Homo sapiens: one gene and its partner. The protein of the gene in region 1 interacts with the protein of each later gene in a biochemical or structural test. Each region holds a gene or a part of one and is shown on either strand. Other genes may lie near its edges.

The links. The genes of interacting proteins can lie anywhere in the genome.
Region 2: the proteins of SNIP1 (region 1) and DPF3 form a complex in vitro, tested with the Homo sapiens proteins (one study listed by BioGRID).

The regions. Positions count from the first base shown.
Region 1 is NC_000001.11:37,544,260-37,547,913, reverse strand, and holds part of SNIP1 (smad nuclear-interacting protein 1), read left to right. Parts: intron 1-2,455; exon of another isoform or gene 2,456-3,351; intron 3,352-3,654. UniProt on the Homo sapiens protein: Required for pre-mRNA splicing as component of the spliceosome. As a component of the minor spliceosome, involved in the splicing of U12-type introns in pre-mRNAs. Down-regulates NF-kappa-B signaling by competing with RELA for CREBBP/EP300 binding.
Region 2 is NC_000014.9:72,765,012-72,768,665, reverse strand, and holds part of DPF3 (zinc finger protein DPF3), read left to right. Parts: intron 1-3,654. UniProt on the Homo sapiens protein: Belongs to the neuron-specific chromatin remodeling complex (nBAF complex).

The DNA.
Region 1 (3,654 bases):
TGGCCTCCCAAAGTGCTGGGATTACAGGCATGAGTCACTGCACCTGGCCCTGAGATAATCTTTTTTATCCACTGGGGATCCTGGAACCAATCTCCTGAGGATACCAAATGATTACTTTATTCTTTTCTCAACCTCTGAACCACCATTTTGTGTTTTTTTTTGGTTGTTGTTGTTGTTTGTTTGGTGAAGTGTTGCTCTGTTGCCCAGGCTAGAGTGCAGTAGTGTGATCTTGGCTCACTGCAATCTTTGCCTCCTGGGTTCAAGCGATTCTCGTGCCTCAACCTCCCCAGTAGCTAGGATTACAGGCACGTGCCACCATGCCCGGCTAATTTTTGTATTTTTAGTAGAGACGGGGTTTCACCATGTTGGCCAGGCTGGTCTCAAACTCCTGACCTCAAGTGATCCACCTGCCTCAGCCTCCCAAAGTGCTGGGATTACAGATATGAACCACCGTACCCAACTGAACCACCATTTTCGAAACAAATGTATTGATTACATGCTCATTGTAATAATACAGAGGTATGTAAAATATAAAATGAGAGTATGGTTTACTTCTCTCGTCCCCAAAATTGCACCACCTCCTCAACCAAAAAACCTCCACCTCACTTGCCAGAGGTAATCACTATGATATAGACTCTCTGTCCATCATCACATGGCCTTCTCCCATGAATCTCTCTATCTCTTCTCTTCCAAGGTCACCAGTCACGTGGGATTAATGACCTATATTACTTCAGTATGACCTTAATTTATTACATCTGCAGTGACCCTCTTTCTAAATAACGGAGAGATAAACATTTGAGACTCACCTGCATATAGGTGTATGTAAAGTATTAGGATTAGATGAAAATTACTAAGGAAATGACTGTAGATAGAAGAACAACCAACAAAGGACTGAATCCAGGGGCGATCCAGTGTGAAGAAATTGCAGTGACATCAGCAAAGAAGACTGGAAAGAAAGAGAAGCAAGAGAATCTGGTAACTTGAAGCCATTAGAAGGAAGTGTGTTGAGGATAGAGTGATTAACTCTGTTAGATGCTGCTGATAGTTAAGTGAAATGAAGACTGAGAATTGGCCACTGGATTTAGCAACATGGAGGTCACTGGTGATCTTGACCAGCAATTTTAGTGGAGTAATAAGGGTGAGACCTGATTGGAGGGGTTCAAGGGAAGACAGAGGAGAGGAATTGGGAACTGAATTTTTAAAAACAATACTTTTTCTTTCTTTCTTTCTCTTTTTTTTTGAAACAGAGTCTCACTCCGTCACCCAGGCTGGAGTGCAGTGGTGCAATCTTGGCTCACTGCAACCTCCACTTCTGGCGTTCAAGTGATTCTTCTGCCCCAGCCTCCCAAGTAGCTGGGACTGTAGGCACGTGCCACCACATCCAGCTAATTTTTGTATTTTTAGTAGAGATGGGATTTCACCATGTTGGCCAGGCTGGTCTTGAATCCCTGACCTCAAGTGATCCACCCACCTCAGCCTCCCAAAGTGCTAGAATTACAGACATAAGCCACCACACCCGGCCGTTATGGCTTATTATAATGACTCTTAATAAGGGATAAAGGACATGATGAGATTAGTCCTGGTGAACTCAAGGCAGATAGCAGTGGCAAGCTTGTAAATGTTTTGGAGTAGGAAGGGTGGTTGTCTGAGGCTCTCTCTTGATGCATGTCTGTGCTAGGCTAGGAAGTCTAGAAAAACTGAGTCCCACTCTAAGCAAGCAGCCCCTCACTTGAGCCCTGTGTATGGCAGGGAGCGGGGGGGGGGGGGGTCTTAGTCCCAGTGCTTCCACTTTTAGGGTATTGCGAATAATGCTGCAATGAACATGGATGCTCAAGTATCTATTTGAGACCCTGCTTTCATTTGTTTGGGATATCCAGAAATGGGATTGCTGGATCATATGGCGATTCTATTTTTAAATTTTTTATGGAACCACTGTACTGTTTTCCGCACTAACTATACCATTTTACATTCCCACCAGCAGTGTACAAGGGTTCTGATTTTTCCACATCTTTGCCAATACTTGTTATTTTCAGTTTTTTGATAGTAGCCATCCTAATGGGTGTGGAGTCACCTAAATTTTTAGTTTTTAATTTTATTTTTATTATTATTTTTAGAGAGGGCGGCGGGTGGGTCTCACTATGTTACCCAGGCTGGTCTCGAACTCCTGGACGCAAGTGATCCACCCGCCTCGGCCTTCCAAAGTGCTGGGATTACAGGTGGGAGCCACTGCGTCCTGCCTGCCTAATCATTTTTATTATTATTATGTATTTTTTAAATTAGGGGCCATGCTAATTTTTGTGTCATTCTAATTTTCTCCCTAATCATTTTGAAAGTCTCTTACTGCTCTCTGCTTTAAAATTTTTAACCTTAATTATCTGTAAACATTTTTGTACCTTACCTAGTCCATAACAAGAAGTTTTTTCTTTGTTTTTTTTTTTTTTTTGGTGGGGGCGGGGGGTACCAAATTTCTTTATTTGAAGGAATGGTACAAATCAGCTTAAGTGGATGTTTTGGTACAACTTATAGAAAAGGTAAAGGAGACCCCAACATGCATGCACTGCCTTGGTGACCAGGGAAGTCACCCCATGGCTATGGGGAAATTAGCCTAAGGCTTAGCTTTCATTATCACTGTCTCCCCGGGGTGTGCTTGTCAGAGAAATATTCTGCCAAGCCAGATTCGGGTGCCCTCATCTTGCGCAAGTTGGTCACATGGTCACCCAATTCTTGATGGATTTCCCCTGCTCATTCAGGTAATGTGTTTCAGTGAAGTCACACAAATGGGGGTAATTTTGTCGGTGGCCAGTTTGTGCAGTTCCAGTAGTGACTGATTCCCAAGTTTTTCCAAATGTAATGCATGCTCCATCGCATTCAGCCTGCTCTCCCAGTCATCATGGTCTGGTTTCTTGAAGTCCCGAAGGAAGAAGATTCAGCCACCTCATTGGTTCTGCAGCTTCATCAGTTTCTTGGCATGTTCCCTCTCCTCATGAGATTGGTGAAGAAAGTATTTGGCAAAGTTCTTCAAAGCCACATCATTGTGGTCAAAGTAGTAAGACATGGACAGGTAGATGTAGGAGGCATAGAGCTCCACGTTGATCTGGCGGTTGATGGCGGTAGTTCTGGCGCACCTGCGAGGGGGACGCGCAGTCGTCATGGTGGTGGCCACGGTGGCTGTGCGGCGGTGGCTGCACGGCGCTGGAGTGGCGGCGGGGGCCTTGGGACAGTCAGAGGGCCCAGTGAAGAGGTAACAGAGGGCTAGCTATGGGCGGCCAGCCGGAGTGGGGTACGAGTGCCTGGTTCCGTCCAAGCACTGTTGAACCAGGAAACTCCAGGGACTTTCCGCAAAGAACGTCTCATTTTTTTCTTTTTGAAACAAGAATACACAACAACATTTTTGTACATGAATGAAGTCCTTGGGGATCTACATCTATAAGACTTGTTTCTTTCTTTCTTTTTTTTTTTTTTTTTTTGAGACAGAGTCTCATTCTGTCCACCCAGGCTGGAGTGCAGTGGCGTGATCTCGGCTCACTGCAACCTCCGCCCTCCGAGTTCAAGTGATTCTCCTGCCTCAGCCTCCCAAGTAGCTGGGATTACAGGCGCCTGCCACCGCGCCCTTCTAATTTTTTGTATTTTTAGTACAGACAGGGTTTCACCATC
Region 2 (3,654 bases), on another chromosome or scaffold:
ATAATTTCTTCTTTATTAAATCAACTTTTATCTTGAAATAATTAATAATTGCAATTGTGACTGTATTTGCAATTTGCAGTTGCAAATATAATAGAGATCCCCTATCTTCTTCATCCAATTTCCTCCAAGATTAATACATCTTACAATATCAAAACCAAAAAACTGACATTGGTAAAATGTGTATATGTAGCTTTATGCCATTTTATCACATGTCTAGATTTGTGTAACCACTTCTACAATCAAGATACAAAACTATTCTATTACCACCCAACACTCATTATTTAAATCCTTTTACCCTCCTCCCTTTATAATATAGTTGTCTTAAGCATTTCCTTTACATACATTGAAAACCATACCAGTGTTATAATTTTTACTTCAACCATCAAACATAATTTAGAAAACGTAAGAGAAGCGTTTATTGTATTTACTCATATTTTTACTCCTTCGTTGTTTTTCTTACTTACTGAAGTTCCAAGATTCCTTCTTTTAGCATTTACTTTCTGATGTAGTACTTTCTTTAGCCATTCTTTTAGAGTAAATCTGATGGTAACAACTTCTTAGTTTTCCTTCAGTGGAGAATGTCTTGATTTTGCCATCATTCCTGGAGGATATTTTTGCTGGATATAAAATTCTGAGTTGATAGTCCTTTTATTTTAGCAGTTGAAAAAGGTTTTGCCACTTCTTTCTGATGGTTAGTGATGAGAAATCTGCTGTCATTTAAATGCTTTTTTCCCTTATAAGTAAGGTGTCATTTCTCTCTCATTGTTTTCAAGTTTTTTCTTTGTTTTTAGTTTCAGAAACGTGATTTTGATGTGTTTTGCCATAGATTTTTTGGGTTTATTCTGTTTGAGTTTACTCAGCTTCTTCAACCTGTGGGTTTATGGGGTTTTTTTTTTTTTTTTTTTGCCAAATTTGGGAATTTTTCAGCCATTATTTCTTTGAATACTTCTTCAGTTCAACCCTCTTTCCCCTCTCCTTCTCGGACTTCAACAACACAAATGTTAGATCTTTTGTTATAGTCCCATAAGTCCCTGAGGCTGTGTTCATTTATTTTTAAAATTCTTCTCTCTGTTGCTCAGCTTGGGTGATTTCTATAGTTCTCTCTTCAAGTTCATTGCTTCTTTATTCTGTCCTCTGCCTTCTGCTGTTAAGCCAATCCATTGAGAGCTTTTTTATTTTTTGTTACAATTTTTTTCAGTTTTCAAATTTCTATTTGGTTCTTCATATTTTCTATTTCTTTGCTGAATGTGTTTTATGTGTTCATAATTGCTCGTTGAAACACTTTTAATGATGGCTGCTTTAAGATCCTTGTCAGATAATTCTAACATTTTTGTTATTTTCTTGTTGGTGTCTGTGTCTTTCCTCATTTGAGATTTTCCTGGTTCTTCATAAGATGAGTGGCTTTGACTGAATCTTGGACATTTTGGCTGTTATGTTATGAGACGCTAGATATTATTTAAATCTTCTATATTAGCAGGTCTCCTTTCAAGCTATGCTAGTAGGGGAGGCGAGGCTCCCCTTATTACTGTCAGATGGATGTGGAAATCCATCTTCTCTACTTGGCTTCTGTTGACATCCTCTTTAACAGGGGAAGAACACCTTGTTGTTGCTGAGTGGAGGTGGGAGTTCAGGCTCCCCACTAGGCCTCTACTGGTATTATCCTACTTGGGAGGAGGAGGGCCTCTACTGATACCACAAGGCACCAGCTCTTCCCTTGGCCTTCTCTGACACCAACCCAGCAAAGCTATTGGGATGCCTGCTTGTCTTGCTAGGCTGGTCCTTTCCTGGTTCTCTGGCTAGAGAGAGCAGGATTTTCTTGAGGTCTTTTTTGGTCTTCATTTGTTGGTGTTTCTGGGTTATCAGCTTTTCCAGAATCCAGTCCAGGATATATGAGGCATAAAGGAGACCCAAGATCGGGCTGGACACAGGCTCATGCCTGTAATCCCAGCACTTTGGGAGGCCAAAGGAGGAGGATTGCTTGAGCCCAGGAGTTCGAAACTAGCCTAAGCAACATAGTGAGACCTTGTCTCTATAAAAATTTAAAAAATTATCCAGGTGTGTTGGTGCGTGCCTGTAGTCCCAGCTACTTGGGAGGCTGAGGTGGGAGGATTGCTCAAGCACAGGAGTTTGAGGCTGCAGTGAGCCAGGATTGCGCCATTGCACTCCAGCCCAGGCTACAGAGTGATACTTTGTCTCAATAAATAGCTAGCTAGCTAGATAGTTAGATAGCTAGATAGATAGGTAGATAGATAAAATAATACCCAGGGAGCTCACCACCCACCCTGTTGTTTCTCAGGTCCCAAAGTCCCTAGCTGGTCTGACTGGTTCCCTTCATCTTTCAGTTATTTCTTATGTCTGTTCTATGAATAATGTCCAGGATATTTAGTTGTGCTTAGTGAGAGGAATATAAAAAAGTGTATCTATTTCATCTTTCCAGAAGCAGAAGTCCCTGAGATTGCCTTGTTATTAAAAAAGTTTAACAGCTTTATTGAAGTATAATTACATACAATAAATTGCACATACTTAATGTGTCCAGCTTGATAAGTTTTGACATATATTCACCTGTGGAACCATTACCACAATCAAGATAATGAACATATCCATGACTCGCAAAGGTTTCCTATGTGTTTAGAAATCTATCCTTCCTGCGCTTCTCCATGCCTCTACCCTTCTTTACTCCCTCCCCAGAGAAGCCATTGATTTGCTTTCTATACCAGAAACACACACTGTATACTCCCTTTTGTTTTTTTTTGAGATGGAGTCTCGCCTTGTTGCCCAGGCTGGAGTGCAGTGGCGCAATCTCTGCTCACTGCAAGCTCCGCCTCCTGGGTTCACGCCATTCTCCTGCCTCAGCCTCCCCGGCTAATTATTTTTGTATTTTTAGTAGAGATGGGGTTTCACCGTGTTAGCCAGGATGGTCTCGATCTCCTGACCTCGTGATCCACCCGCCTCGGCCTCCCAAAGTTCTGGGATTACAGGCGTGAGCCACCGCACCCGGCCTGTGTACTCCCTTTTTTAGGGACAAGGGCATGTCTGGCTTCTTTCACTTAGCATAATTACTAATTAATACTATATCAATAATTCCTTTTTATGCTGAGTAGTAGTCCATTGCATGGCTGTATCACAGTTAATTTATCCATTCACCTGTTGATGGACATTTGGATTTGTTTGCAGTCTTTGACTACTATAAATCAAGCCACTATGAACATTTGTGTACAAGTTTTTGAATGGACATATGCTTTCCTTTCTCCTTGAGAGGTTAACTACCTAGGAGTAGAACAACTAGATCATAAGAGAGATAGATGTTTCACTATTAAAGAAACTGCCAAGCTCTTTTCCAAAGTGGTTGTACCATTTTACATTGACTCCAGCAATATATGAGAGTTCCACTTCCTTTGTATCCTTGCCAACACTTGGTGTGGTCAGTTTGAAAATTTTTTTAGCCATTCTAATAGATATATAGTAGTATTTCATTGCAGTTTCAACTTGCATTCCCCTAGTTAATAATGATTTTGAGCATCTTCACATGTGCTTATTTGCCATCTGTGAGGGAAAATAAACTGTTTTATTCTCTATACTTTTACTCAATATTTCTGTGAGCAGATGTGTGGATGTCTTTTCCCCTACACCAAGCAATTCTCCAATTCCCTGCGG